Homo sapiens: one gene and its partners. Changing the gene in region 5 together with the main gene of any one other region gives a genetic interaction. Each region holds a gene or a part of one and is shown on either strand. Other genes may lie near its edges. The genes, in order: STAT1, KLF13, HNF4A, CPAP, CREBBP, SMARCA4 and STAT6.

Evidence for each region.
Region 1: of CREBBP (region 5) and STAT1, changing one enhances a phenotype caused by changing the other (phenotypic enhancement), as found in Homo sapiens cells (one study listed by BioGRID).
Region 2: of CREBBP (region 5) and KLF13, changing one enhances a phenotype caused by changing the other (phenotypic enhancement), as found in Homo sapiens cells (one study listed by BioGRID).
Region 3: of CREBBP (region 5) and HNF4A, changing one enhances a phenotype caused by changing the other (phenotypic enhancement), as found in Homo sapiens cells (one study listed by BioGRID).
Region 4: of CREBBP (region 5) and CPAP, changing one enhances a phenotype caused by changing the other (phenotypic enhancement), as found in Homo sapiens cells (one study listed by BioGRID).
Region 6: of CREBBP (region 5) and SMARCA4, changing one enhances a phenotype caused by changing the other (phenotypic enhancement), as found in Homo sapiens cells (one study listed by BioGRID).
Region 7: of CREBBP (region 5) and STAT6, changing one enhances a phenotype caused by changing the other (phenotypic enhancement), as found in Homo sapiens cells (one study listed by BioGRID).

Annotation. Positions count from the first base shown.
Region 1 is NC_000002.12:190,968,648-190,973,275, forward strand, and holds the end of STAT1 (signal transducer and activator of transcription 1-alpha/beta), read right to left. Parts: intron 2,071-4,628; coding exon 2,056-2,070; 3' UTR 502-2,055; downstream 1-501. UniProt on the Homo sapiens protein: Signal transducer and transcription activator that mediates cellular responses to interferons (IFNs), cytokine KITLG/SCF and other cytokines and other growth factors.
Region 2 is NC_000015.10:31,371,835-31,375,116, forward strand, and holds part of KLF13 (Krueppel-like factor 13), read left to right. Parts: intron 1-175; coding exon 176-465; 3' UTR 466-3,282. UniProt on the Homo sapiens protein: Transcription factor that activates expression from GC-rich minimal promoter regions, including genes in the cells of the erythroid lineage. Represses transcription by binding to the BTE site, a GC-rich DNA element, in competition with the activator SP1.
Region 3 is NC_000020.11:44,421,000-44,425,627, forward strand, and holds part of HNF4A (hepatocyte nuclear factor 4-alpha), read left to right. Parts: intron 1-3,018; coding exon 3,019-3,255; coding exon of another isoform or gene 3,256-3,380; exon of another isoform or gene 3,381-3,644; intron 3,645-4,628. UniProt on the Homo sapiens protein: Transcriptional regulator which controls the expression of hepatic genes during the transition of endodermal cells to hepatic progenitor cells, facilitating the recruitment of RNA pol II to the promoters of target genes. Activates the transcription of CYP2C38.
Region 4 is NC_000013.11:24,905,481-24,910,108, reverse strand, and holds part of CPAP (centrosomal P4.1-associated protein), read left to right. Parts: intron 1-22; coding exon 23-319; intron 320-1,982; coding exon 1,983-2,091; intron 2,092-2,915; coding exon 2,916-3,018; intron 3,019-3,148; coding exon 3,149-4,628. UniProt on the Homo sapiens protein: Plays an important role in cell division and centrosome function by participating in centriole duplication. Inhibits microtubule nucleation from the centrosome. Involved in the regulation of slow processive growth of centriolar microtubules.
Region 5 is NC_000016.10:3,724,012-3,728,219, reverse strand, and holds the end of CREBBP (CREB-binding protein), read left to right. Parts: coding exon 1-502; 3' UTR 503-3,166; downstream 3,167-4,208. UniProt on the Homo sapiens protein: Acetylates histones, giving a specific tag for transcriptional activation. Mediates acetylation of histone H3 at 'Lys-18' and 'Lys-27' (H3K18ac and H3K27ac, respectively).
Region 6 is NC_000019.10:10,988,218-10,992,845, forward strand, and holds part of SMARCA4 (SWI/SNF-related matrix-associated actin-dependent regulator of chromatin subfamily A member 4), read left to right. Parts: intron 1-1,099; coding exon 1,100-1,226; intron 1,227-2,932; coding exon 2,933-3,106; intron 3,107-4,628. UniProt on the Homo sapiens protein: ATPase involved in transcriptional activation and repression of select genes by chromatin remodeling (alteration of DNA-nucleosome topology).
Region 7 is NC_000012.12:57,104,211-57,108,838, reverse strand, and holds part of STAT6 (signal transducer and activator of transcription 6), read left to right. Parts: intron 1-539; 5' UTR 540-560; coding exon 561-676; intron 677-1,095; coding exon 1,096-1,234; intron 1,235-1,524; coding exon 1,525-1,608; intron 1,609-2,007; coding exon 2,008-2,146; intron 2,147-2,258; coding exon 2,259-2,311; intron 2,312-2,499; coding exon 2,500-2,648; intron 2,649-3,239; coding exon 3,240-3,371; intron 3,372-3,499; coding exon 3,500-3,688; intron 3,689-4,025; coding exon 4,026-4,113; intron 4,114-4,247; exon of another isoform or gene 4,248-4,252; coding exon 4,253-4,375; exon of another isoform or gene 4,376-4,479; coding exon of another isoform or gene 4,480-4,512; intron 4,513-4,628. UniProt on the Homo sapiens protein: Carries out a dual function: signal transduction and activation of transcription. Involved in IL4/interleukin-4- and IL3/interleukin-3-mediated signaling.

The DNA of each region.
Region 1 (4,628 bases), on a different chromosome or scaffold from region 5:
TCTCATGTATTTTAAAATTAAAAACTGCTAATTTGGGGGTATTAGCAATACCCAGATTCATTTTAAAATAAGTGCTGAATCATCTGTATATTTGGGGACAGCTGTGGTCGCAAAGAACCAAAATACTTTTGTTTGTTTGCTTTTTATGGCACCTATTACAGCTGTTGCCAATAATATTACTCCTCTGACCTCTTCCATTGACATGTCTTAATCTGCCATAGCAATTCTGAATATGTGTAGGGCAGGTAAGGACAACATTTAGGAAAATAGTGTTATTGATCTTATTTTAAAATAAGGATTGAGGTACATGAGAAAAGCATCAAACCAATTCATAACGTCAGTAATTTTAAGAATCTTTATATTAAATACTATTAATGAGAGATTAATAGAATTTTAGAATTTTAATACTTCTTAAAAGTAAAGTCTCTTGGCTAGTGCAGTAAAATGAAACCATGCCGAATTCCCAAAGGGCAAAAAGAACTGACAGCTAAACCTCAGCAATTAGAAACAATATTGTTTTAATGTTGTCTTCTTTGTTTTTTAGTCATTTCAATTGTAAAATCAACTGAAACTTAGGTTCTCGCCATCTATATAAAAACTGAGAGAGGAGGCCTCAGATTGTATGCAGTGCCACGGAAAGCACTGTGTGCATATTATATTTAATGCAATACAGATACTTTAGCTTTAATTTTAAAACAAAACTCAAGAAATCTTTATCTCCACCAAAGAAGAATACAGCATTTGCATGATAATATAGTTGTGGTAGCAGTAGTGGAAAAACAAGATACAGCCACATAGACAGCAGTATGTAAAAGGGAAGAACCTTGTCAAACCCATCTCTTAATCTACTTTTTGTGTCAGTGATAAGGAAGGAAAAAGGTAAAAATACAGTATACTTCACGAAACATCATCCACTCAAAAAAGTGTCTGGAAAAAGTACAGGAGAGAGAATGGAACCATTCGCAAATGTGAAAAACACATATATCAGCGAAACATATGCAGTTCTCAATGCAGTTACATAGGAAATGAGTTTTGAAATGATCTGATTCTCATATTATCTCTGGTGTATTATTCAAGTTGTCAGTTACTGCTTTTTCTACTCCTTTCCCAATTTTGTGGCTAATAGACTAAATACCACCCTAATAACAAAAAGGACAAAGTAGCCCATTTAAGAAACATGAATTAAATTTCTGAGTTTATCTACATCTATGGTTAATTTCAACTTTTGAATGAGTGGTTGTGAATAGCCTAACTCCCTTGGGAGAACTGTAAAAATAATTGTATGTGACCAAGATGAAAGCAGAATGTATTCAGCTTTGGATATCAAACACAACTTGTGAATTTGGAAATGTACATCCTTCTATTGATATTAGCTAGTGTCATTAAGCCATAACAAACAGTAAAGCTAATATTCTCTTCTCAAGAAACAGAATTTGTCTTTGTCTTTAAATAGCCAATGTGAAAGATGTAATAAAATACACATTTTCCCCCTACCAGATCCATGATGGCTACCTTTGAAAGAGGACTGATATAATTGTATATAAACTTGGCTTTGAACTATTTCACAGGTAAACCAATGGAAAACTGCCAGTTACACTTAAAGCAAAGAAAACATGTAAGAATTCTCCCACAGAAATTTACCGTTCCTACGTCAAGCAGTTCCCTAAATAACCACTGATTTATCCAACAACCTATAACAGTTGGGCACTGACTTTATGCATAACATTTGCTAGATGTTGCTTAACTTCTCCTTTCCCAAAGGACCCTCATTCTCGTCCTGATACTTTGGGTGTATCTGGATGTTTTTCACTTGTGAAACCCACTCTTCAGAGAATGCCTTTCAATTTTACCTTCAGTAAGATGCATGATGCCCTTCAGAGTAACTGATGTTTCTGAGTTAGAGAAAAATTCACTTGCTATCAACAGGTTGCAGCGAATTTGCTGGCCTTTCTTTCATTTCCCTAGAAACACAGGATGTGAAGGAACAGAGTAGCAGGAGGGAATCACAGATGAGAAGGAAAACTGTCGCCAGAGAAGATGAAAAAAATTCATGCTCTATACTGTGTTCATCTGTAAAAAGACAAAATGTGGTTAAGTTTATTACACTGATCTTGTGAAATGCAGACTCATACATTAAACATTGCTTGTCTATTCTAGAATGAAGTAGTAGGAAGATACTTGCAATGGCAAATAAATACCGTGGAATAAGAGGGCCTTCAGCATGTACTATGTATTATCCTGGGCTAATCAAGACCTTTTATATCACCTAAGCTGACGGATTATTACTCTGCTGCCCACTGGCTTAATTTTGTGAATCCATCCAGACTGCATAAAGCTTTTTGCTGTTATGCAAGTCTGGGGACAGAGCAACGTGTCAAATCTGCTCATGTGAAACGGGTGAGGAAATGCTGAGCCATATGCCAGAGGGAGAGAGGAAGGAGAGGGAAATGATACACTTCCCCTAAAGGCCACTCAGTGGGTAAAATCAATGACTGTGTTTCAGGTACAGACTAAAGAAGCAGAATTACTAAGAACCCCTTCACCTTCCCCACCAGTGCCTTCTGCCCAGCTGCCTTGACCAGGACAACTTATAGTAAGTAAACTGTTCATCCAAAGGATACTAGCCTGCCAGTGACTTCCTGTCTGACTTCCACACTGGTCTTTCCCCTTAGACCAGATGCTTTCAATCGAGGATGATTCTGTCCCCTGGCAATGGCTGAAGACATTGCTGATTGTCCCATCTGGCTGTGAGGGTGCATGTGCTTACTGGTATCTATTTGGTAGAAGCCAGAGGTGTTGCTGAACCTCCTACGAAGCACAGGAAAGCTCCCCACCCCACCAATCCCCAACAAATAATTCTGAAGCCCCGAATACCAGTAGCACCAAGACTGAGACACATGGCACTAGACTGGAAAGCCTCTGGAGAACTTTTTTTTAATCCCAAGTGCTCAATAGTGTGTGGTACATAGTGGGCTCTTAGGAAAATTATTTTGGATTGAAAAGCACAGTGAAAGTGTTGCCCCTATGTTTCAGTCTAGCTTATGTTTCTCTTTTCTTTTTCTTTCTTTTTTTTTTTCAAATTGGAGACGGAGTCTTCCTCTGTTGCCCAGACTGGAGTGCAGTGGCACCATCTTGGCTCACTGCAACCTCCACCTTCCAGGTTCAAGCGATCCTCCTGCCTCAGCCCCCCTAGTAGCTGGGATTACAGGCACACACCACCATGGCTGGCTAATTTTTGTATTTTTAGTAGAGATGGGGTTTCACCGTGTTGGCCAGGCTGGTCTCAAACTCCTGATCGCAGGTGATCCACCTGCCCCGGCCTCCCAAAATGTTGAGATTACAGGCGTGAGCCACCGCGCCCGGCCTGGCTGATGTTTCAAATGTGTGCTTAATAGGGTGGACCGTGGGGGTAAAGAGAGGGAGGGAGGGGGAGATAGATAGATAGAGGAAGAGAGGAAGCCCAGATTCAGATCCTGTCACTGCGTGACCAGGGCAAGTGGCTTAACCTCTCTAAATCTCAAAGTCTTCATCTATCAAAAGGGGATTAATAGTACCTAGCAGATAGGCTTGTTAAATTAGATGGCATACGTAAAATGTTTAGTATAGTAGACAGAAAGTAGTAGACAATTAATAGCTAGTCCTATCATTATGAGCTTTGGCTAAAGGCCTCTTGGAGAGTAGACTGGTTCTATTACAGTCCCAGAGGAAAACACTGATTACACAGGAAATCCAGACTAAACAAATGCCCAAGTCATACTGCAGAGAACACTGGTGCTCTGGCTCTCTTGGACAATTTCCTCAGGAGCCTATGGTCCTGTTGCTCCTGAGGCTGCACCAGGCGTTGGCCCCTGGTACCACCCTCTTTCAGAGCTGCAACCTCCAGACTTGGCAGAAGACAGCCAGCTTGGGGAGAGCTGCTTCTGTTTCAGAGTATACACTCTGATTCTAAGAGTAGATGCTGGATGGAAGTCATGGCCAAGGGGCAGGACAGCAAACCATTGTGAAGTCAACCCAATTTAGAGACTGATTCAACCGTTGTCTAACCAGTGCCGTGCCTATATTATGAACTCTTTTTCTTTTCTTTTCTTTTTTTTTTTTTATATTATAGCCTCTTTTAGCTCTTTAAGTCTTCTATGGGTTTAATGGGAGGCTTTAGTGGTGTATAGAGGGTGTGTGTGTGTGTGTGTGTGTGTGTGTGTGTGTGTGAAATGGATTTATTTTATTCTACAAATGAAATGAATAAAATCACCTGAAATGGAACGGAATGGCTACAGCGAGTGTCCAAAGACCACAAAACTGTTTCCTGACATGTGCTTAGCATATTTAAATTGTTCTCACAGTATCATCCTGAGAGCAGAGAGAGCAGTCCAACTGCTCCACAGGACTGCAGAGAGGGAACCAATCCATCTATTTTCTCAATAATGGTGATGACAGAGATGGAATGCTGATTGCCAAATCCCAAACACATACGGGCCTCTCACCCAAAGGCCATGATGCCTTTGTCTTAATAACAGAATAAACCCAATCCTGTACAAACAGCTTCTTCAGGGTGCATGTTTTGAATGGGGCAAAGATTAGCTTTTTGTGGGAGGCTTTCCAGGATACCGGACAAAAGCATGCACTAGAGA
Region 2 (3,282 bases), on a different chromosome or scaffold from region 5:
GCAGGGGCCCACCTTCATCTCTGCCTTGATGGATTTGTCACAGAAGCTCTTGGAGGTGGGGCATGTGGGAGGGGTGTTGAGAGACCAGGGTGTTGGGTGTTGCGGGCCCTTCCCCAGAGAGGGTGTGAAGGCGGGGCCAGGTGCGGATACTGATGCTCTGCCCCTGTGCCCACAGGTGAGAGGCCCTTCGCCTGCAGCTGGCAGGACTGCAACAAGAAGTTCGCGCGCTCCGACGAGCTGGCGCGGCACTACCGCACACACACGGGCGAGAAGAAGTTCAGCTGCCCCATCTGCGAGAAGCGCTTCATGCGCAGCGACCACCTGACCAAGCACGCGCGCCGCCACGCCAACTTCCACCCGGGAATGCTGCAGCGGCGCGGCGGGGGCTCGCGGACCGGCTCCCTCAGCGACTACAGCCGCTCCGACGCCAGCAGCCCCACCATCAGCCCGGCCAGCTCGCCCTGAGCCCGCCACAGCCATGAGCAGCCGCTCCCACCCCCTCGTGAGTCCCTGGCCTTTCCTTTTGTAATAAGAAAGAAGAGAGAGAACTTGATGCAAAGTCCACGAAAAAACAATTTTTTTCACCTCAGGTGTCAAAGTAAATTTGTTAAAAAAACAAAAAAAACACAAAAATTTCAAAAAACACCACCCACCAAATTGCACAATAGATACACCCACAAAGTTGAGATTCAGCGTTGTTGAACCCCCTTTCTCAGGGATGGACACGTTTCACGAGGTCAGTGAGGACACCCCTTCCTGCCGCCTTACTCTGTACATAGATTTGCACTCTGGAGTTTTCTGTTAGGTTCGGGAACACGCTGGGGACAGAGCAGGCCAGCCAGTCTGGTGGAGCTCAGCGTCTGGCTGGCTGGCCAGCCTGTGGGTCTGTTGGGAGCAGATGTGCTCACTGACGTTTGTGCCTCCAGGGCAGATTCCTAAGCAGCTGGCCTGACCTCTTCCTGCCCAGCCCCCAACCCAGTCTCTGGCCTCTGCCCAACGAGCCTGGCTGGGCTTGCAACGCAGCTGATTCTGAGACAGGCCCCTGCAGAGGGATGCCTTAAAGCTGTCCCTGGCTGGAGGAGCACTCCACCTTGGGGATAGTGGAGGGGGCCTTCAGCCCTCTGCACCCTGCCTGCCTCACACCCCGCCTTCAGGAGCCCTCTCCTACGGCGCTAGGGAGCACTGGAAGCAGAGATGCCAGCCCTGGCTGAGCGTAGCACTGCACCGTCCGACCTCCGAGGCAGGGGCCGGGGTCACACCTGCCAGGACTCCGCTTCTCCGTGTCCCAGCAGAAGGCATGCAGGACCCTGTCACTACTATACCTGGGCCTCTGATGGGGAATTCTGGTCTTCTAAAAAGATGTTAGAAATTCCTGGTGGCACATCCAGTTCCGAGTTTGCCCGCACGGGCACTTTTGTTGGAAACAGTGGGCAGGTCATGGGGCCTCCTCATCAGAGGGTCTGTGTGAGCGGCTGTGCATGTGGCAGCGCACCATGCTTCACAGAGACCATTCTGTAGCAAGAGACCGGAACATTGTGACTTGGACCTTTTCAGGAGTGGCGCGGATGTTACAGGAAATGCTGTCGGAGAGCGCGCATTCTATTTCCTCCGCAGGGAATGCCAGATAGAAAGTTGCGGGCAACACTTTTCTCAGACCCACCATGTCCCCAACTCAGACTTAGCAAACCTCCAGCCTCTCCGTTTCCCCTGGACTCCTCCTCCCTTTTCCTCCTGCTTCTCCTTGTCCTGCCTGGAGGCTCCAGGCCACACCCAGCTGGTGGGGCTGCTCCAGTGCCCCATCACCGGCCTTCTCCTGGCAGGAGAGGAGGAGCAGAGAGCTGGGTCCTGGGCTGGGATTCGAGCCCTGGGCGGGGGTCAGTCAAGCCGTGGTCCAGCAAACTCCTCTGCAGATGGCTGGAGTGTTGACCCAGGCTTGTGGCCCAGGTATCACCTTCCCTTCCTCCTGAGAGTTGAGGCCTGTAAATACAAGGGCCCAGGACAGAGTGTGTGCGTGCGTGTGGGTGTGTGCGCGCGTGAGCACACACGCGTGTGTTGGGGGGGGTGGGGGGATTGGGGTGGACTCAGGGTATCTTGCCAGAGATACCTGTTTTGATGAGTACCTATTTTGATGCAAAGGAACGGCCCTGGGACCTCAGAGGGCCACAGATGGGCTTCCTGGGCCTAGCGTGCCTTGGTTGTGGCCATCCTGCTTCTACTCAGCCCTGCCATGCTATGGGGTGCAGCACAAACCCAGGACCCAGGCCTAGCCACTGCCCACAGCTGATGGTCACTGTTTTGGCTGGCTCCAGAGTGGACAGGTACGCTCTGTCCACAGCAGCTGCTCAGGCACAGTATGCCGTCAGGTGCCCGCTTCTTACCACTGTGTGTCAGCTGGGATTGGCCGACAGCGTGGTGGTGACTTCTAGGTAGACCGATGGACCCTAAATTGGGCAGTGGCATTGTTTCTGCTGTGGTGGGAACTGGCAGGGAGAGGGTCACCTCCACTCTGGTTGGATGCGGAGCTGGTCCCTCTGGCTGCCATGCTGTGTTGGGGCTCTCTGACCTCCCTGCTTGCATTGGGTCTGGGAGAGAGAGTGGAATATTTGGTAGGGACCTTGACAGAAGAGAGCCCTGGGTGCTTGTGGTGCAAAGATCTTCATGCCCAGTTCCAAAGTGAGGTCCCTCCCAAAGTTGTTTTCGTGTGAGGCAGAGAAAGCCACACTCTGAATACATTTTATGTCTCAGGAATTCACATTCCAGGTTCAGGAATTTTATTCCAAAGTCCTTTGGTGCACTCACCGTCCACCGTTCCCCAAGGCAGGGAGAGGGAGTGGCCCGTCCCTGGGAGGCTGGCAAAGTGCTCTCCAGGGAGGGGTCAGACGTCCTTGTGATCTGCCCAGGGTGTCACGGAAGGAGATTTTCTAGCTCCACATCTGTCTGCACATAGGAAGGAAAAGATAGGACTCTAAACCTAGTCATCTTGGAATAAAAAGAAGAGCTGGTTTGTTTTAGAGCAGGGCGGGGGGTGGGGGAGGGAAGCGGGTGTTGGCTGTTTCCAAAGAGAGCACTTAATTTAATTTTTCCTTTAAATGACCCAGGGCTGTTCCGTCTGATAGATGGAAGGGTAACATTGCCTTAAAACAGAAATATGCAGGCGTTGGCTATTTTTGGCATAAGAGCGTGTCTTCATTCCCAAAGTGGTTCTCGTTTAATGGCAGGGTGCGGTCCTTAGGCCCCGGCCTGGACTGGGAAATGGGGGTAGGGCACCAGGAGAGAAATCCT
Region 3 (4,628 bases), on a different chromosome or scaffold from region 5:
GCATCCATTTTGGATCATAATGTTCCTCCTAGGATGGCAGAGGATTTTGCTTTTCTCCATCACCATTCCCATCTTTTCTTCCCCATTTTTCCCAATATATTTTTATTGCTATTTTTGAGTCTCTGTTGCAAGTTATGTGCTTTTATCTTTCCTTTCTTGTTCTATCAACTGTAGACGGTATCTCCCAACCCTTCACATTGCAGGATGAAGAAAAAGCATTCCTACCCTCTCCTGTGGCTCTTGGCTCTCCTCTCCCCATTCTGTCCACTGACTTTTGCACCTGCATTTATACAGAATGCATTTGTCATCAGTCTTTGTACAAAACTTGCTTTTGTTTCCCAGCATCAAAGGTGCCTGAACTCTGGAGGCTTGCTTGCCTTCCCTGCTTACATGTTAGAGGGGACCTACTGTGTGCCAGGCACTGTCCTTCACGCTGCAAATAGATTACCTCTAGTAATAATAGTAATGAAAAGGCTGGGTGTGGTGGCTCACGCCTGTAATCCCAGCACTTTGGGAGACTGAGGCAGGCAGATTACTTGACGTCAGGAGTTCAAGACCAGCCTGGCCAACATGGTGAAACCCCGTCTCTACTAAAAATACAAAAATCAGTTGTGTGTGGTGGTCCGTGCCTGTAATCCCAGCTACTCAGGAGGCTGAGGCAGGAGAATCGCTTGAACCTGGGAGGCGGGGGTTGCAGTGAGCCAAGATCATGCCATTGCACTCCAGCCTGGGCAACAAGAGCAAAACTTCATCTCAAAAAAATACATATATGTGTATATATATATAATATATATTATATATATATAATATATAGTGATATATATAGTATATAGTGATATATTACGTATAATATATATTATATATAGTGATATATATTTTATATATATATAGTGATATATATTATATATAGAGAGAGTGATGAAGTGGAAGATGAGCCCCATGTATTGAATGCTCCCTAAAGAGCTGTTTTTAAACACTTTATGTGGATTGTCTTACTTACCAACATGGTACCTGTGAAGTAGGAATTATTATTATCTCCATTTTACAGATAAGGAAACTGAGGCATGATTAACTTGCTCAAGGTCACACAACCGGAAAATGGCAGAGCTTGGATTTGAACTTCAGACCACCTGTCAATCCCAATTTCTCTCTCTCAAGCCCACATTCTTACCTACCACCTGCTATCCCACACTTACCAGAGGGTGAGATTTCTAGTTCTAGTTCCCTCCACAGCCTGGCCCAGCCTGTATCCTCTGTAGTGCTCAACACGAGGCTGGACTGGCAGAATTGTTCTGCAAAATGGGAAGGATCACTGATGCTGAGTCAGAGGCAGCAGCCTCCAGCAATTTGAAGGGGCGGGGGACCTAGTTCAAGGCCTGGCATGCAGGAGGTGCTCAATAAACATGTGTGGCCTGAATGAACTAATGAATAAGCATGATTCAGTGGAGACAGCCCACTAGAAATGTGGGTGAATGTTCTTTCTGCCACTTCCTTTGTCCATGAAAGAGGAAATAAATGCATTACCTCCATGAAGGTTGAGATTAAATATTGTATGACCGCTTAAGTTCCTTTCTAGGCTAAGGATCTAGAATTTATTCACTGATTTTTTTTTCATTCATTCATCCAGCCATCTAACAAAAAATATACATATAGTTATCAATAAATATATATTTATATATAAATATATATTTTTTAAAATATATATATATATAGTCTGTCACCCAGGCTGGAGTGCAGTGGCACCGTCTTGGCTCACTGCGACCTCCACCTCCCAGTTTCAAGCGATTCTCCCACCTCACCTCCTGAGTCGCTGGGATTACAGGCATGTGTCACCACGCCAGGTGAATTTTTGTATTATCAGTAGAGATGGGGTTTCACCATATTGACCAGGCTGGTCTCAAACTCCTGACCTCAAGTGATCCCCCCGCCTCGGCCTCTGACAGTGCTGGGCTTACAGGCATGAGCCACCATGCCTGGCCCTATTCAATAAATATTGACTATGCATGGTGCTAGGTGGTGAGTTTGAAAAGGCAAAGGCCGGGTGCAGTGGCTCACGCCTGTAATCCCAACATTTTGGGAGGCTGAGGCAGGCAGATTACTTGAGGTCAGAAGTTTGAGATGAGCCTGACCAGCATGGTGAAACCCCGTCTCTACTAAAATACAAAAATTAGCTGGGTGTGGTGGTGTGTGCCTGTAATCCCAGCTACTCGGGAGGCTGAGGCAGGAGAATCGCTTGAACCCAGGAGGCAGAGGTTGCGGTGAGCCGAGATCACGCCACTGCACTCCAGGCTGGGGGTCAGAGGGAGACTCAGTCTCAAAATAAAATAAAATAAAATAAAAATGGCAAATAAGACATACGCGTGCCCCTGCCAAACTCACAGTTGGATGGCACAACAATTACATCCTGTGTGGTCAGCAGTGATGGAGGGGCCGCAGAGATTTGGAAACAGGAGGGACACAGGATACAGATATAGGAGGGTAGAAGGCAGACTTCCTGGAGGAGGTGAAACCTAACCTGAGTCCCTAAGGTGATAGGAAGCAGGAACCAGGGAAGGGGAGCCTATTCTAACACAGTAGAAGCAGCAACTGCTGAGGTCTGGATGAGGGGACCTCAACTGTGGCCCAAAACCCCAAGTTCCCATTGTGGCTCTGCCAACAACTGGCTGTGCGACCCAGGACAAGTCCTATCTTTGCACTGTGTCTGGGTTTCCCCGTGTGTAAGATGAGGCGGTTGCTAGGTGCTTATTGGATGCATTCCTCAAGTCCCGCCCTCCATCTCCTATTCCCCTCTCTTCTGGTTTAGTGCTTTAGGAAATGTGGCAGAAATCTTTTTCTGCCTGTGTCTAGGAAATCATAATTCATGCTGGCGTACCCTGGTTGTTGAGGTCCCTGAATCCTTGTGCCCACACTGCTGAAGACTCCTTGTGTGATACAAGTCAGGGGACATCTGGGTCTTGACTCCCCAGATGCTCCAGCTGGACCCTGCTGCCCTCCCTTGCCCACCCTCTTCCATTGTAGATGCCAAGGGGCTGAGCGATCCAGGGAAGATCAAGCGGCTGCGTTCCCAGGTGCAGGTGAGCTTGGAGGACTACATCAACGACCGCCAGTATGACTCGCGTGGCCGCTTTGGAGAGCTGCTGCTGCTGCTGCCCACCTTGCAGAGCATCACCTGGCAGATGATCGAGCAGATCCAGTTCATCAAGCTCTTCGGCATGGCCAAGATTGACAACCTGTTGCAGGAGATGCTGCTGGGAGGTCCGTGCCAAGCCCAGGAGGGGCGGGGTTGGAGTGGGGACTCCCCAGGAGACAGGCCTCACACAGTGAGCTCACCCCTCAGCTCCTTGGCTTCCCCACTGTGCCGCTTTGGGCAAGTTGCTTAACCTGTCTGTGCCTCAGTTTCCTCACCAGAAAAATGGGAACAAGGCAATGGTCTATTTGTTCAGGCACCGAGAACCTAGCACGTGCCAGTCACTGTTCTAAGTGCTGGCAATTCAGCAAAGAACAAGATCTTTGCCCTCGGGGAGGCTGTGTGTGTGTGAGTATGTATGGATGCGTGGATATCTGTGTATATGCCCGTATGTGCGTGCATGTGTATATAAAGCCTCACATTTTATGATTTTGAAATAAACAGGTAATATGATAGAGTTTAACTGAAAAGGAATCCTCTTTAGATAGGGGAGGCCACAGGAGACCTCTCTGAAGTGGTGACTCTTGTGCTAAGACCCTAACGGCTGAAAGGAAATGGAAGGCTTAAAAGACAAGAGAGGAATATTCCAAGAAGAAGAAACTACTTCAAGGGCTGCGGATAGGAGAGAGTGTTGTGTTTGAGAAAGAAGGGCAAGGTTGTGAGATGGAGGACGTGTAGGAGGTGAAGATGGAGATTGGGCAGAAACCAAATCATAAACATATGGCTTTGTCAGCCTTTTCAGAAATTTGGATTTTATTCTCATTGCAACTATTGTAAGGAGAGTGAAAACCAGACTAAGTATTTTTATTCTTTGAGACAAAGTCTCCCTCAATCATCCAGGCTGGAGTGCAGTGGCACAATCTTGGCTGACTGCAACCTCCACCTCCCGAGTTCAAGCAATTCTCCTGCCACAGCCTCCTGAGTAGTTGGGATTACAGGCGCCCGCCACCACGCCCTGCTCATTTTTTTATATTTTTAGTAAAGACAGGGTTTCACCCTATTGGCCAAGATGGTCTCAAACTCCTGACCTCAAGTGATCACCCACCTCAGTCTCCCAAAGTGCTGGAATGACAGGTGTGAGCCGCCACACCCATCCCAGACTAATGCTTCAAACAAACCACTCTGTTGGGTAGAGAGTGAATTGCAGATTCCTGAGAATGTCACTGTCTCCAATCATGTGATGGATGATGGAGGCTTGGACCCTGGCAATGGAGCAGTGAAGATAAACCTGATCATCTATTTGGAGGAAGAGCCCACACCCACAGGATTTGCTGATTGATCAGACATAGGGAGTGAGAGAAAGAGGAAGAGTCAAGGACAAAGTCTACATTTTTGCTTTGAGTAGCAGAAATGACGATGGAGTAATTTACTGAAATGAGGAGGACAGAATAAACAACAAGACACTGGGTCTGGGGGTGGTAGTGAGGGGTGACCTCAGAGA
Region 4 (4,628 bases), on a different chromosome or scaffold from region 5:
TGTTGCATTTCTTAATTGTAAGGTTTGAGTTTACTGCCTGATGATCAGAGCCAGAAGCACAGGTCTCCAGGAAATACCACCACTGGAGAGAGAGCCACATGCTGCTTCCCATCATATGTCTACCCGGACCCAACCCAGGAAGAAACATACCCGTCCAACATTTTATCCCATGAGCAAAGCAACTTCTGTAGAACTGCTCATGGAGATTTTGTCTTAACTTCAAAACGTGCGTCTCCTAATTTATTTTCTGAGGCACAGTATCAAGAAGCACCTGTGGAAAAAAATAATTTAAAAGAAGAAAACCGTAACCATCCTACAGGTGAGCTACTTATGTTTCTCTCTTCTGTGCTTATAGTGTTACTAAGTTGTCCTAAGATGAAGCCTTTCCATGTTTTTTCTTTAAAAATTATTTTTTCAGAGATGGAGTGTTGCCGTGTTGCTCAGGCTGGACTCAATCTCCTGGGCACAAGTAATCTTCCCCCATCAGCCTCTCAGGTAGCTGGGACTATAGGCACGTGCTACCCTGCCAGCTCTTTCTGTATGGTTATTTTTTTTTGTCCCCTGTGGCGTGTTTTTTTTTTTTGAGACAGTCTCGCTCTGTCACCCAGGCTGGAGAGCAGTGGCACAATCTCAGCTCACTGCAACCTCTGCCTCTCGGGTTCAAGTGATTCTTGTGTCTCAGCCTCCCAAGTAGCTGGGATTACAGGTATGTGCCACCATGCCCAGATAATTTTGTGTATTTTTAGTAGAGATGGGGTTTCAACATGTTGGCCAGGCTAGTCTCAAACTCCTGGCCTCAAGTGATCTGCCTGCCTTGGCCTCCCAAAGTACTGGGATTGCAGATCTGAGCTACTGCACCCAACCATAATGCCTTGTTCCTAATTTAGAGTTAATTCATCGGTGTGGAAAGCTCAAATATGTTTTTCTTCTTTTTTATACAACATGTTTCCATAGCCTTTTATTTTGGAAAATTTCAAACATCTAGAAAAGTTGAAAGACCACTGCAGTTATTACTGATATACCCACCACCTAGATTGAGCAGTTAATATTTTGCTGTATTTACTTTGTCAGTGTATGTATGTGTATATATATCTTTTACATGTATATCCTTATCTTTACTTCTATATGTGTATAATTTGCTGAACCATTTCACTGAAAATAATATGCAGGTATCTTGTTACTTCATTCCAAATATTTCAGTATGCATCAAGCAAAAATTAGGACATTCATCTGTATAACCACAGTGCTATTATTGTATCTAAAGAAATTAATGATAATTCCTTAATATTCAAGTCCATTTTGGGATTCCCCCAGTTATCCCAAAATATCTTTTAAAGGTGCTTTTTTTTTAAAGGATCCAATCAAATTAATGCATATCCAGTCAAGTTCATGTATTACGTTTGATTCTTACAACTCTTTAGCCTTTTTAATCTCTAGAAAACCCCACACTTTTTTCCTCATGACATTAACCTTTTGAAGAATGTCAAGTGTCTTTATTTTATTTTATTTTATTTTTGAGACAGGGTCTTCCTCTGTCACTTAGGTTGGAGTCCAGTGGCACCATCTTGGCTTACTGCAACCTCTGCTTGCTCTCAGCCTCCCAGGTAGCTGGGATTACAGGCATGTGCCACCACGCCTGGCTAATTTTTTTTTTTTTTTTTTTTTTTTTTTTTGTAGAGACGGGGTTTCGCCACGTTGGCCAGGCTGGGCTCGAATTCCTGGCCTCAAGTGATTCTCCCGCCTTGGCCTCCCAAAGTGCTGGGATTACAGGTGTGAGCCACCACACCCGGCCTCAAGTGTCTTAATTGGAGTTTTGTAGTTTCTCTTAATTATATTAAAGAATTCCTTGAGTGTTGTAAAATCTGTGATATACATTACTTTTAATTAAAAAAATGTTTTAGCATAGTAACTTGTAGAATTCTCATGTTTTAAGACATTAATATGCTTTTCTTGAGCTAAATTGTTCTTAATTTTTATCTCAGGAGAAAGTATCTTATGTTGGGAGAAAGTGACAGAACAGATTCAGGAAGCAAATGATAAGAACTTACAAAAACATGATGATTCCTCAGAAGTGGCTAATATTGAAGAAAGGTATTGTTCGTGTTGAAAGTGAGAAATGTGACTATTTAGTACAATAGCTAGCCTTTATTATTGAACACTTTCTTTGTTTGAAAGATCTATATTTTTCTGGTTTTTGCTTGACTATGCTTTTAAGGTTAAAGATACAACCTATTATGTACTGTCAACAACAAAAGAGGTTGAGGAGATATGTCAAGCTGCCTTGACATTGTATTCTCGAAGCTTTTTCACTTAAGAGAAACATCTGGATAAAATCAATTTTCTCTCAAATAGTTAAATCCTATTTTTGGAGAAGGGAAAAATTAAGTATTGACATCTCCCATTTGGTGTCACTTATCAATTATAATTGCATTATCAGTTTAGTTACAGAATTTTAAAATATGGCAAAGATTAAGTATTTTATATTTTAAGTAAGTTGATTATTTTAAAAATTTATTTCAAAATTTTTAATATAATATGGACAAAATGACTTTTCTGATTATTGTTCTCACATTAAGGGCCTTTCTTAATTAAAAAAATGCATATTTAGTGATCTATTTTTGAAATACATTTTAAAGTTATTTGATGAATATGTTACTCCATGTGTTAATCTGTGGTCGATAGATGGACTTCAGAAGGGTTCTTAGGACTCCAAAGTCATGTGAAGAGTGTTGTATGTTTCTTTATTTTAAGGTGTGGAGAGGGATTGTGGCTTTTGTTAGGTTCTCAAAGGGAGGCACTGATTTTGGGAAAAGTTAGTTCTCCATGTTGTCAAGGGTTTCTATACCAGGCACACTAAGTGTAAAATATTCACACATTATGATTTGCATGTTAAATAACTTTCTGTTTCTAATTAGGCCCATTAAAGCTGCTATTGGAGAAAGGAAACAGACCTTTGAAGATTACTTAGAAGAACAAATTCAGTTGGAAGAGCAAGAACTGAAGCAAAAACAGCTGAAGGTCAGCAATTGTGCTCTTCTGATTAAATCATTCTAAGGCTTTAGAGATTTATCTATAATTTGCCTTAAAAATAACTTTGAGATCACTTGGATATACCAAAATTAATTCAAATATTATTCTTTTATTTTAGGAAGCAGAAGGACCATTGCCAATCAAAGCAAAACCAAAACAACCATTTTTAAAACGAGGAGAAGGTTTAGCTAGATTTACTAATGCCAAATCTAAGTTTCAAAAAGGCAAAGAAAGTAAACTAGTGACTAACCAGAGCACTTCCGAGGACCAGCCGCTGTTTAAAATGGATAGACAGCAACTCCAGCGGAAAACCGCTCTTAAAAATAAAGAGCTGTGTGCAGACAACCCTATCCTTAAAAAGGACAGTAAAGCTAGAACCAAGAGTGGTTCTGTCACCCTCAGTCAGAAGCCGAAAATGCTGAAGTGTAGTAACAGGAAAAGTCTTTCTCCGTCAGGATTGAAAATACAGACGGGGAAGAAATGTGATGGGCAGTTTAGAGACCAGATCAAATTTGAAAACAAAGTCACATCTAATAATAAAGAAAATGTAACTGAGTGTCCAAAACCTTGCGATACTGGCTGCACAGGGTGGAATAAGACACAAGGTAAAGACAGACTTCCTCTTTCAACAGGGCCGGCCAGCCGGCTGGCTGCTAAGAGCCCCATAAGGGAGACCATGAAAGAGTCTGAATCTTCTCTTGACGTTTCTCTTCAGAAAAAGTTAGAGACTTGGGAACGAGAAAAGGAAAAGGAAAATTTGGAATTAGATGAATTTTTGTTTTTAGAACAAGCTGCTGATGAAATATCATTTTCTAGTAATTCCTCATTTGTACTGAAAATCTTAGAAAGGGATCAACAGATCTGCAAAGGTCACCGGATGTCTTCCACCCCTGTCAAAGCTGTGCCACAGAAGACAAATCCGGCAGATCCCATTAGTCATTGTAACCGCAGTGAGGATTTGGACCACACTGCACGTGAGAAGGAGAGTGAGTGTGAAGTCGCACCCAAACAACTTCATTCATTGTCCTCAGCTGATGAATTGAGGGAACAGCCTTGTAAAATCAGGAAAGCCGTCCAAAAGAGCACTTCTGAAAATCAGACTGAATGGAATGCACGTGACGATGAAGGTGTTCCAAATAGTGACAGTAGCACTGACTCTGAGGAACAGCTTGATGTTACCATAAAACCATCGACTGAGGATAGAGAGAGGGGCATCAGCAGCAGAGAGGATAGCCCACAAGTCTGTGATGATAAGGGGCCTTTTAAGGACACCAGGACCCAAGAAGATAAAAGGAGAGATGTTGATCTGGATTTGTCTGATAAAGATTACAGTAGCGATGAGTCTATCATGGAAAGCATAAAACATAAAGTGTCTGAGCCCTCGAGATCCTCATCCCTAAGTCTGAGTAAAATGGACTTTGATGATGAAAGAACTTGGACTGACCTTGAAGAGAATTTGTGTAACCATGATGTTGTTCTTGGGAATGAATCCACTTATGGGACGCCGCAGACATGCTACCCTAATAATGAAATAGGTATCCTGGACAAAACAATAAAAAGGAAGATTGCACCAGTCAAGAGGGGAGAAGACTTGAGCA
Region 5 (4,208 bases):
GCCGGGGCTGGGGGCAGACAGCACCCCCAACATCCAGCAAGCCCTGCAGCAGCGGATTCTGCAGCAACAGCAGATGAAGCAGCAGATTGGGTCCCCAGGCCAGCCGAACCCCATGAGCCCCCAGCAACACATGCTCTCAGGACAGCCACAGGCCTCGCATCTCCCTGGCCAGCAGATCGCCACGTCCCTTAGTAACCAGGTGCGGTCTCCAGCCCCTGTCCAGTCTCCACGGCCCCAGTCCCAGCCTCCACATTCCAGCCCGTCACCACGGATACAGCCCCAGCCTTCGCCACACCACGTCTCACCCCAGACTGGTTCCCCCCACCCCGGACTCGCAGTCACCATGGCCAGCTCCATAGATCAGGGACACTTGGGGAACCCCGAACAGAGTGCAATGCTCCCCCAGCTGAACACCCCCAGCAGGAGTGCGCTGTCCAGCGAACTGTCCCTGGTCGGGGACACCACGGGGGACACGCTAGAGAAGTTTGTGGAGGGCTTGTAGCATTGTGAGAGCATCACCTTTTCCCTTTCATGTTCTTGGACCTTTTGTACTGAAAATCCAGGCATCTAGGTTCTTTTTATTCCTAGATGGAACTGCGACTTCCGAGCCATGGAAGGGTGGATTGATGTTTAAAGAAACAATACAAAGAATATATTTTTTTGTTAAAAACCAGTTGATTTAAATATCTGGTCTCTCTCTTTGGTTTTTTTTTGGCGGGGGGGTGGGGGGGGTTCTTTTTTTTCCGTTTTGTTTTTGTTTGGGGGGAGGGGGGTTTTGTTTGGATTCTTTTTGTCGTCATTGCTGGTGACTCATGCCTTTTTTTAACGGGAAAAACAAGTTCATTATATTCATATTTTTTATTTGTATTTTCAAGACTTTAAACATTTATGTTTAAAAGTAAGAAGAAAAATAATATTCAGAACTGATTCCTGAAATAATGCAAGCTTATAATGTATCCCGATAACTTTGTGATGTTTCGGGAAGATTTTTTTCTATAGTGAACTCTGTGGGCGTCTCCCAGTATTACCCTGGATGATAGGAATTGACTCCGGCGTGCACACACGTACACACCCACACACATCTATCTATACATAATGGCTGAAGCCAAACTTGTCTTGCAGATGTAGAAATTGTTGCTTTGTTTCTCTGATAAAACTGGTTTTAGACAAAAAATAGGGATGATCACTCTTAGACCATGCTAATGTTACTAGAGAAGAAGCCTTCTTTTCTTTCTTCTATGTGAAACTTGAAATGAGGAAAAGCAATTCTAGTGTAAATCATGCAAGCGCTCTAATTCCTATAAATACGAAACTCGAGAAGATTCAATCACTGTATAGAATGGTAAAATACCAACTCATTTCTTATATCATATTGTTAAATAAACTGTGTGCAACAGACAAAAAGGGTGGTCCTTCTTGAATTCATGTACATGGTATTAACACTTAGTGTTCGGGGTTTTTTGTTATGAAAATGCTGTTTTCAACATTGTATTTGGACTATGCATGTGTTTTTTCCCCATTGTATATAAAGTACCGCTTAAAATTGATATAAATTACTGAGGTTTTTAACATGTATTCTGTTCTTTAAGATCCCTGTAAGAATGTTTAAGGTTTTTATTTATTTATATATATTTTTTGAGTCTGTTCTTTGTAAGACATGGTTCTGGTTGTTCGCTCATAGCGGAGAGGCTGGGGCTGCGGTTGTGGTTGTGGCGGCGTGGGTGGTGGCTGGGAACTGTGGCCCAGGCTTAGCGGCCGCCCGGAGGCTTTTCTTCCCGGAGACTGAGGTGGGCGACTGAGGTGGGCGGCTCAGCGTTGGCCCCACACATTCGAGGCTCACAGGTGATTGTCGCTCACACAGTTAGGGTCGTCAGTTGGTCTGAAACTGCATTTGGCCCACTCCTCCATCCTCCCTGTCCGTCGTAGCTGCCACCCCCAGAGGCGGCGCTTCTTCCCGTGTTCAGGCGGCTCCCCCCCCCCGTACACGACTCCCAGAATCTGAGGCAGAGAGTGCTCCAGGCTCGCGAGGTGCTTTCTGACTTCCCCCCAAATCCTGCCGCTGCCGCGCAGCATGTCCCGTGTGGCGTTTGAGGAAATGCTGAGGGACAGACACCTTGGAGCACCAGCTCCGGTCCCTGTTACAGTGAGAAAGGTCCCCCACTTCGGGGGATACTTGCACTTAGCCACATGGTCCTGCCTCCCTTGGAGTCCAGTTCCAGGCTCCCTTACTGAGTGGGTGAGACAAGTTCACAAAAACCGTAAAACTGAGAGGAGGACCATGGGCAGGGGAGCTGAAGTTCATCCCCTAAGTCTACCACCCCCAGCACCCAGAGAACCCACTTTATCCCTAGTCCCCCAACAAAGGCTGGTCTAGGTGGGGGTGATGGTAATTTTAGAAATCACGCCCCAAATAGCTTCCGTTTGGGCCCTTACATTCACAGATAGGTTTTAAATAGCTGAATACTTGGTTTGGGAATCTGAATTCGAGGAACCTTTCTAAGAAGTTGGAAAGGTCCGATCTAGTTTTAGCACAGAGCTTTGAACCTTGAGTTATAAAATGCAGAATAATTCAAGTAAAAATAAGACCACCATCTGGCACCCCTGACCAGCCCCCATTCACCCCATCCCAGGAGGGGAAGCACAGGCCGGGCCTCCGGTGGAGATTGCTGCCACTGCTCGGCCTGCTGGGTTCTTAACCTCCAGTGTCCTCTTCATCTTTTCCACCCGTAGGGAAACCTTGAGCCATGTGTTCAAACAAGAAGTGGGGCTAGAGCCCGAGAGCAGCAGCTCTAAGCCCACACTCAGAAAGTGGCGCCCTCCTGGTTGTGCAGCCTTTTAATGTGGGCAGTGGAGGGGCCTCTGTTTCAGGTTATCCTGGAATTCAAAACGTTATGTACCAACCTCATCCTCTTTGGAGTCTGCATCCTGTGCAACCGTCTTGGGCAATCCAGATGTCGAAGGATGTGACCGAGAGCATGGTCTGTGGATGCTAACCCTAAGTTTGTCGTAAGGAAATTTCTGTAAGAAACCTGGAAAGCCCCAACGCTGTGTCTCATGCTGTATACTTAAGAGGAGAAGAAAAAGTCCTATATTTGTGATCAAAAAGAGGAAACTTGAAATGTGATGGTGTTTATAATAAAAGATGGTAAAACTACTTGGATTCAAAGATGGTTCAGATTGGCTAATGACTTACAGTTAGCTCAACGGCTCGTCATTATAGGATTGCAGATGCGGGCCCGGTGCGGTGGCTCACGCCTGTAATCCCAGCACTTTGGGAGGCCAAGGCGGGTGGATCATGAAGTCGGGAGTTCGAGACCAGCCTGGCCAAGAAGGTGAAACCCCATCTCTATTAAAATACAAAAAAATTAGCCGGGTGTGGTGGCAGGCGCCTAGAATCCCAGCTACTCAGGAGGCTGAGGCAGAGAATCGCTTGAACCCAGGAGGCGGAGGTTGCAGTGAGCCGGGATCGTGCCACTGCACTACAGCCTGGGCAACAGTGAGATTTTGTCTCAAAAAAACGATTGTAGGTGGTGCTGGCCGGGCTTGGTGGCTCATGCCTGTAATCCCAGCACTTTGGGAGTCTGAGGCGGGCAGATCACATGGTCAGGAGTTTGAGACGAGCCTGGCCAATATGGTGAAACCCCATCTCTACTACAAAAAATACAAAAAATTGGCCGAGGTGTAGTGGCTCACGCCTGTAATCCCAACACTTTGGGAGGCCAAGGCAGGCAGATCACGACGTCAGCAGTTCGAGACCAGTCTGACCAGCGTGGTGAAACCCCGTCTCTACTAAACATACAAAAATTAGCTGGGCATGGTGGCGCACGCCTGTAATCCCAGCTACTCAGGAGACTGAGGCAGGAGAATCACTTAAACCCGGGAGGTGGAGGTTGCAGTGAGCCAAGATTGCACCACTGCACTCTGGCCTGGGCGACAGAGCAAGACTCTGTCTCAAAAAAAAAAAAAAAAAAAAAATATTCAGCCGGGCATGGTGGTGTGCACCTGTAGTCCTAGCTACTAAGGAGGCTGAGGCAGGAAAATCGGTTAAACCCAGGAGGCGGAGGTTACAGTGAGCCAAGAGCGCGCCACTGCACTCCAGCCTGGGCAACAGAGTGAGACTTCATCTCAGAAAGAAAAAAAAAATTGCAGATGTTCAGTGGAGTTTTTCTCTACAGAGCATGTGTTTGATGCTATCTTTGAAATTCTAG
Region 6 (4,628 bases), on a different chromosome or scaffold from region 5:
TCAAGCGATTCTTCTGCCTCAGCCTCCTGAGTAGCTGGGATTATAGGCATGCGCCACCACACCTGGCTAATTTTGTATTTATTTTAGTAGAGGCAGGGTTTCTCCATGTTGGTCAGGCTGGTCTCGAGCTCCTGACCTCAGATGCTCCCAAAGTGCTGGGATTACAGGCATGAGCCACCGCACCTGGCATGAATTCTCTTTTTATGATTGATATCAGATCTACTCCGTGGATTAAAACCTGCCTGTAGCTTCAATTATCTGCCCAATAAGCTTTGCCTTATGTCCACTCCTGCCCAGCATCCTTCCTCACCCATCCCAGTCTCTCTGTTCCTCTTTTCATTTATTTAACAAGTTAGACTTGTTCCTGCCCCAGGACCTTTGCACAGGCTGTGCATGGCTCCTTCTACTCATTCAGGCCTGATTGCTGGGGTTCCCTCCTCATGGAGGCCCTTCCTGTCACTTCCAGCCACTCTCTGGAATTGCAGTGGATATTTTATTTTTTTTAAATCTCCTTTATGGCCTGTGTTTTCTAATGAGACTGAGAGTTCCTTGCTTTGTTGTTCTTGTTTAGTGCTAAGGCCCTGCACTTAAAATGGTCCCTGGCATACAGTTGGTGCTCAATGAGTATGTGCAGAAAGACTGATTAAGAGAATTAGCCCACATAACCTTCGCATGTAACCTTCGTAACCTTCAGACCAAGCCTCTAGGGTCACTCCGAGGGGTTGCCTCAGTTTTGAGGTGAGAATGCTGAGGTGTGCAGTTGAAATAGATTCCCACCGCCCTGCGCCTCATCCATGCCAGAGCTGCATGAAAACCTTGGCCCGCCTGACGCCAGAACCTGGCTCACACCACTGAAAAGGCATGACCTGGGCGCGTCTATCAGGAATCTTGTTTGCTGTCCCCTGAGGCCCGGTCCTGAGGAGTGCCCCGGGCTATCTCCCTCTCTGCTGTGCCCTGCGGCCAGCATCCTCTTCTGAGGCATCTCTTGCCTCATGACTAGTGCCTGCCTCTCTCGAGGGATGGGTCCCCTGCAGCTCCAGCTGTAACTGGGTGCCCTGGCAACCCTCTCACCGCCTTTGCTCCTTGTCTCTGCTCCCAGGCTGCAGGCTCGCATCGCACACCGAATTCAGGAACTTGAAAACCTTCCCGGGTCCCTGGCCGGGGATTTGCGAACCAAAGCGACCATTGAGCTCAAGGCCCTCAGGCTGCTGAACTTCCAGAGGCAGGTGGGTGCTGGCATGGCCGCAGCTTTCCGAAAAGGGCCTTTGTCACCAACACTGCTGCTAAGGCTCCAAATACGGCTTGCCTGGCTAGTATTACACCTGCCTGGGCTGTGAAAAGCAGCCGTGGCCATCCATGGGCACTCAATCACTGCAGAGCCTTCCTCTTACGGCCTGCGCAGTGCTGGGGACGTGGACCTCACTACCCTAAAGCACTTGCCGCCTCAAAGCAGACTTGTATGGGCTTCTTTCTTCCTTTCCCTTTCCCTTTTTTTTTTTTTTTGGAAACAGTCTTGCTCTATCACCTAGGCTGGAGTGCAGTGGCATAAACTCTGCTCACTGCAACCAACGCCTCCTGGGATCAAGCAATTCTTCTGCTTCAGCCTCCCAAGTAGCTGGGATTACAAGCGTGTGCCACCATGCCTAATTTTTATATTTTTAGTAGAGACAGGGTTTCACCATATTGGCCAGGCTGGTCTCAAACTCTTGACCTCAAATGATCGGCCTGCCTTGGCCTCCCAAAGTGCTGGGATTACAGGCATGAGCCACCACGTGCTGTCCTGCATGGGTCTATTTCTGAGGGTACTGTGCTTAGACCCTGGAGTGCAGTGGAGAGATCACAGCTCACTGCAAACTTGACCTCCCAGGCTCATGTCCTCCTCCCGCTTCAGCCTCCTGAGTAGCTGGGACTATAGGCGTGCACCATTACACCTGGCTATATTTTTCTTTTTTTTGAAACAGAGTCTCACTCTGTCACCCAGGCTGGAGTGCAGTGGTGCCATCTCACCCCACTGTGGCCTCTGCCTCTGTGGTTCAAGTGATTTTCCTGTCTCAGCCACTGAGTAGCTGGGATTACAGGTGTGCACCACCATGCCGGGCTGATTTTTTTGAAGTGCAGTGGCACAATCTTGGCTCACTGCAACCTCTGCCTTCCAGGTTCAAGTGATTCTCCCACCTCAGCCTCCTGAGTAGCTGGGATTACAGGCATGTGCCCCACGCCTGGCTAATTTTTGTATTTTTAGTAGAGACAGTGTTTCACCATGTTGGCCAGGCTGGTCTTAAACTCCTGACCTCAGGTGATCCTCCTGCCTCAGCCTCCCAAAGTGCTGGGATTACAGGCATGAGCCACCACGCAGGCCTGGTTTTTGTATTTTTAATAGACACAGGGTTTCGCCATGTCGCCCAGGCTAGTCTCGAACTCCTGAGCTCAAGCCATCCACCTGTCTCAGCCTCCCAAAGTGCTGGGATTACAGGCATGAGCCACTGCTCCTGGCCGCCTAGTTAATTTTTCTTCTAGTTTTTGTAGAAGTGAGGTCTCTCCATGTTGCCCAGGTTGGTCTCAAACTCCTGGGCTTGAGCAATCCTCCCACCTTGGCCTCCCAAAGTGTTGGGATTACTGGCGTTAAGCCACCACACCCAGCCAAGAGTGTTATACTTCTGAATGACTCCTAAGACGTGTGTGTGGTAGAGGGGAGGCAAGCTGGAGGTCCGAGAGGACCCCCTGGATAGATGTCCAGAAGTGATCACCTTCTGTCCTGTGCTCGCCCTGCCCGGGGGCACCTGCTAGACGTCCCCTGCACACACGGACTGGGTGTGTAAGGCACTTACAATGCTCCTTTAGCGGTGAAGCATGTGACATCACCATACGTGTTTGTCATTGTGGATGCCACAGAGCTGTGCAGTGCGCGGGCTTGTCCTCTTCCCTCCTACAGCTGCGCCAGGAGGTGGTGGTGTGCATGCGGAGGGACACAGCGCTGGAGACAGCCCTCAATGCTAAGGCCTACAAGCGCAGCAAGCGCCAGTCCCTGCGCGAGGCCCGCATCACTGAGAAGCTGGAGAAGCAGCAGAAGATCGAGCAGGAGCGCAAGCGCCGGCAGAAGCACCAGGTACGCTCCGGTGGCCCCAAGGCCCTGCAGCCCGCCCACCTGGCTGCCTGGCTTGTCCAGCGGTTGCCACGGGGCTGTGTTTGCTTTGTTCCTAAACATGCTGCTTGTCTCTCTCTTTTGCTCATTGTAACAGTATTCTAGGTACTGAGAGTGTATTGGTGTAAAAACCCAATGGTAGGGAGAAGATAGTGATGAAATCCACGCGTAGCACGTCTGGAAGGTGATAGGGCACAAAGAAAAATCAAGCCAGGATAGAGAGGAAGGAACGGGCTGTTGTAGAACTGATGTTGGGGGAGTTCTTTCTTTTGGAGGTGACATCTGGGCAGACCCCCAAGGAAGGGAGGCACACAGATCTGTGGGAAAGAGCTTTCTGGGAAAAGGAGAAGGTGCAAGGGCCCTGGGGCTGGAATGTGCCTGTGTTTTCTCTGGAAAGCAAGGACCTGCATGAGCCAGAGTAGAGTGAGTGGCGGGGAGAGCTGGAGGAAGGGAGCGCAGGGAGGTGACGAGCAGGTGATGCAGGGCCTTGCGAGCTGCATGGAGGATTTGGGCTTTTGCTCTGAGTAAAGTGGGAGCCATAGAGGGTTCTGGGCAGTGCAGGGACTGATCTGACTCAGGGTTTCCCAAGATGAATCAGTAAGACGGAAATCTTCAAATCTAAAATCAAGTAAGGATTTGGGGATGATTGTGCTGATTTGGTCATTTATAGATTTTCTAGAGATTTTCTATAATTAATATCTTATTGGTGTAGTGTAAAATAATCTAGACAGTCAACACAGCAATCTCTGTTAACTTTTTTTTTTTTTTTTGAGATGGAGTCTCGCTGTGTCACTGAGGCTGGAGTGCAGTGGTGCAATCTCGGCTCACTGCAACCTCCATCTCCTGGGTTCAAGCAGTTTTCCTGCCTCAGCCTACCTAGTAGCTGGGATTACAGGCACCTGCCACCATGCCTGGCTAACTTTTTTTTTGTATTTTTAGTAGAGATGGGGTTTCACCATGTTGGTCAGGCTGGTTTCAAATTCCTGACCTCAAGTGATCTGTCCGTCTTGGCCTCTCAAAGTGCTAAGATGGCAGGCGTAATCCCCCGTGCCTGGCCAACATTTTTTTTTTTTTTTTTTTTTGAGATGGAGTTTCACTCTTGTCACCCGGACTGGAGTGCAATGGCACGATCTTGGCTCACTGCAACCTCTGCCTCCTGGGTTCAAGGGATTCTCCTGCCTCAGCCTCCCAAGTAGTTGGGATTACAGATGTGCGCCGCCACACCTGTTTGTTTTTTTCTTTTTTTGAGACAGAGTTTCACTCTTGTTGCCCAGGCCGGAGTGCAGTGGTGCGATCTTGGTTCGACACAACCTCTGCCTCCTGGGTTCAAGCGATTTTCCTGCCTCAGCCTCCCAAGTAGCTGGGACTACAGGCACCTGCCACCATGCCTGGCTAATTTTTTATATTTTTAGTAGAGATGAGGTTTCACTATGTTGGCCAGGCTGCTGGTCTCAGACTGTTGACCTCGTGATCCGCCTGCCTCGGC
Region 7 (4,628 bases), on a different chromosome or scaffold from region 5:
AGGTGGGGAGAGGGAAGTAGAAGCAGTCGAGTTTCAGGCTTTCCATGCTTGCTTTCAACAGGGCATCTTCGGTTTCGTACCTTTTATGTAATTGAGATTCCACAGATTAAAAGCTGACATTGCCTACCGCTTTAAAAAGTTTGGAAAGTTTTCCACTCATCTAACACTCATATTTTATAGATGAGAAGATCGAAGCCCACAAAGGGAAGGCTCTTTGCCCACAGAACCAGAGCCAGGTCTAGAGCTGCAACTAAATCCTCTGCCACTCTAAGAGAGCTCTCGCTCTACTGCCCTGTCTCCCTTTGCCTCCCCATCCCTCTGGCTACAGCTCAGCTCTTCCCACCCCTGTGTCTATCACTGAAGGAGTTACCCCCATCTCAGGCATTGACTCAGGATGCCCCTGGTTTAAGGTGGTCTGGCCATGAGTGGTGGTGGGGACGGTCCCTAGGAGGGCTATCTATGGGAGGTCCCTGGCTGCCCCAGGAGATAGGCCAAGTTTCTTGGGCACCCCTCAGAGTGGCCTTATTTTTCTCCTCCAGGCAACCTCCAAGTCCCAGATCATGTCTCTGTGGGGTCTGGTCTCCAAGATGCCCCCAGAAAAAGTGCAGCGGCTCTATGTCGACTTTCCCCAACACCTGCGGCATCTTCTGGGTGACTGGCTGGAGAGCCAGCCCTGGTGAGTCCTGGCTGCTCCCTGCTGGTCCCCCAAGTCTTCCCTAACTCATCTTCCTTCTCCTTAGATTTTTCTCCCCTCACCCATGGATTCAGAACTTGAGACCTGTTATTCCATGTGTAGTGACCTAGATTTAGCAGGGAGTCTGTGCCCCATCAAGACCAGGCTATGAATGTTGACAGATGGAGACCCCATCTCTTAGGAGGCTGAGCCGAAGAGGAGGGGGGTTTGGGCTGGGACAAAGGCACTTCTCATAACAGCTAGAAGACTGGGAAACAAGGCGCATGGGTGAAAGCTACAGAGGGCCTAGATGGAGAATAAGGAGCGAGAAAGGAACTGCTGAGCTTTTGGCTGTGGGGTAAAGGGTCAGGAGAGCTGAGGAAGCCCTGGCCTGAGGTAGCCTCATCCTGATCTTCCTGCAGGGAGTTCCTGGTCGGCTCCGACGCCTTCTGCTGCAACTTGGCTAGTGCCCTACTTTCAGACACTGTCCAGCACCTTCAGGCCTCGGTGGGAGAGCAGGGGGAGGGGAGCACCATCTTGCAACACATCAGCACCCTTGAGGTGGGGCAGGAGGGGAGGGGACAAGGCTGGGTGGGGCTGAGGTTGAACTGGGTTGAGCATTGGGCCCTGGAAGAAAATTGGTTGGATGCTGGAAGCAAATTGGTGTTCCTGTGGTTAACTGCTAGCTAGCAGGCAAATTAGATTTTAAAAGCATGCAAATGCACAAAAACTTCTGGAGTCTACAGTTGTGCTTCCTTATAGTATATGTGTGAATGCAGGCCTGGGGATTGGAGGGATTGAAGGACATGGGTAAGAGCAAAGCTCACTGTTTACCACCCTCATTTCTGTAGAGCATATATCAGAGGGACCCCCTGAAGCTGGTGGCCACTTTCAGACAAATACTTCAAGGAGAGAAAAAAGCTGTTATGGAACAGGTATTGTGATATTCCACCTCCCACCCCAACTCAATCCCCTGAGACTTTGGCCTGAGCCATGACAAACTAGAAAGAATTTGAACCTCAGTAAAGGCTCAGTGTTCTAGGCCCAGGAATGACCAAAGGAGGTTCCTAGGGTCAGAGTGAACCCCAAGTCAAGCTCAGGGAATCTTTCTATGAGGGACTGAAGGTAAGAGGCCGGGGAGAACAGAGCAAGGGATAAGGAGCTGATTCTGCTAGGAGCAAGGTCTTATCTCCACGATATTCCAAAAGGTCAGGAAGAACTGCCAAAGGGGAGAGGGGAACAAGAAAACGCTATCTGCAGAGCAGAGAGTGGAGGCCAGGTATAGAGGGATGAGCAGAGTGTTTCACTTCTTGGCATCTGTCCTTCCTGTGTAGTTCCGCCACTTGCCAATGCCTTTCCACTGGAAGCAGGAAGAACTCAAGTTTAAGACAGGCTTGCGGAGGCTGCAGCACCGAGTAGGGGAGATCCACCTTCTCCGAGAAGCCCTGCAGAAGGGGGCTGAGGCTGGCCAAGGTGGGGGCCAGGGTGGTTCTGGGGAGTGTGTAGGAGTGGTTGCCTCTTGGATCTCAACCTTATCTGAACCTCTAATCTGTCTGCACCCTTGATTTCTGCCCCCAACCCTCAGTGTCTCTGCACAGCTTGATAGAAACTCCTGCTAATGGGACTGGGCCAAGTGAGGTGAGTAATGGGCTGACAGGTGGAGACCTTGGTCAAAGTGCAGCTGGAGGGATGGAAGCTAGACCTCAGAAAGACACAGGCTGAAGTAGGGCAAGGGAATGCCAGAGGAGTGAGAAAAAGAGCCGTATCCCAGGAGCTGGGTGTGGAGGCAGCGTGAGGCCCTGGCTCAGGCCCCTCTCTGCCCATAGGCCCTGGCCATGCTACTGCAGGAGACCACTGGAGAGCTAGAGGCAGCCAAAGCCCTAGTGCTGAAGAGGATCCAGATTTGGAAACGGCAGCAGCAGCTGGCAGGGAATGGCGCACCGTTTGAGGAGAGCCTGGCCCCACTCCAGGAGAGGTTGGGCTAGGGCTGATGGGGAAGAGGGGGCAAGCTGGGGGTGGGCAGCTGACCCTGCTGAAGGCCCTACAGGTGAGAGAAAGAAGCCAGGCGGGAGGGCCTTGGAGTGGACCAAGATGCATAAAAGCCAGTTCCAGCGGGGCTGTGCACACTGTCGTTCAGGTCGCATCCTGTACAAGTGGGCCTAGTGGAGGGGCACAAGCGGGGACTCATCCAACCCAGGCTTCTCTCCTCAAGCCCCATGCCTAGAGGAATAGGAGGGCTTTTCCATTTGGTTTATTGGGTGGGAACACTTTCCAATTTGCCACAAAGCACTGTAAGTGGTGGCAGTTGTCCTGGGTGCAAGAGCCGTCGGGGGAGAGGCAGCTGGGTTTCCACAGGGGGTGTAGGCACTGAGAATGAACCTCCCACCCAGACCCTAGGCCAACAGATCACAGAACCCCCTTCAGCCCAGGTGCCTTGCAGCCACACCCACTACCCACCCCACTTCTCCACACATGATAGCCTTTCTCCCTGGGTATAGGGGAAGGGGGTCTGGGCCGGAGCAAGCAGCCTTAATCCTGTGCCCCCTGACCACTGTCCTGGCCCCAGGTGTGAAAGCCTGGTGGACATTTATTCCCAGCTACAGCAGGAGGTAGGGGCGGCTGGTGGGGAGCTTGAGCCCAAGACCCGGGCATCGCTGACTGGCCGGCTGGATGAAGTCCTGAGAACCCTCGTCACCAGGTATTCCCCGGGAGCTCCCAGTCTGGCCTAGAACAGACCTCGGGAAGAAAAGAAGGGGGCTAGAGCTGTGGGGAGGGCACCAGCAGGGACCTAGCCCCCAACTCCCCTTGTGTCCTCCTCACTCCCAGTTGCTTCCTGGTGGAGAAGCAGCCCCCCCAGGTACTGAAGACTCAGACCAAGTTCCAGGCTGGAGTTCGATTCCTGTTGGGCTTGAGGTTCCTGGGGGCCCCAGCCAAGCCTCCGCTGGTCAGGGCCGACATGGTGACAGAGAAGCAGGCGCGGGAGCTGAGTGTGCCTCAGGGTCCTGGGGCTGGAGCGTAAGCTGGGATTGGACCTGGGGTTGGAGAAGGGCTGTTAGGGTGATGGAGGCAGCCTGGAGGGCTGGCACTGAAAAGAGCAAGGGATGGGGAGGGAGGGCCATGGGATGTGGAGACCCTGAATGGTCAAGGCAGAGGAAAGGGAGGGACCCATTTAGGGCTGGAATGGGGTGGGGGCATCATGATTTGGCCAAGATGGGGACTCCTCCCTTAAGAACCCAAACAGAGACATGGAGATTTAGGGCTGGTGACAGTGGGTAGTCTACACTCACCCATGCACTCGCCACACCTGACGACAGTGAGATGAGCTCGTTCACACTCTGACCTCCCCTGGCAGAGAAAGCACTGGAGAAATCATCAACAACACTGTGCCCTTGGAGAACAGCATTCCTGGGAACTGCTGCTCTGCCCTGTTCAAGAACCTGGTGAGGGGCTTTGGGGTGCAGTGAGGGGGGCACCACTAGGAGACTGTGGGACTCTCCTTGGAGAGGATGTCAGGAAGCCCAGGAGGAGCGGTCTCTGTCCTCATGACCTCGCCCTTGCTCTCCCTCACCCCACCCACAGCTTCTCAAGAAGATCAAGCGGTGTGAGCGGAAGGGCACTGAGTCTGTCACAGAGGAGAAGTGCGCTGTGCTCTTCTCTGCCAGCTTCACACTTGGCCCCGGCAAACTCCCCATCCAGCTCCAGGTGAACCGTGGCCCAGCCCTGCCCCAATCTGGGACCCCGAGTCCTCCTCCAATGCCACACACAAGGGCCCTGGACCCTCACCTCTTGTGACTGCCCCATACCCCATGTGTCTGGGATTCATGCACACTGGGGCCCGGGTGAGTGGGGGTGAGCAAGAGCATGGAGTGCACAGGGCAGGGAATGGTAGTGGATAGCAGCAAACACTTCGGAAGCACTTCCTATAGACCAGGGCACTCTATTAAATGATACATAC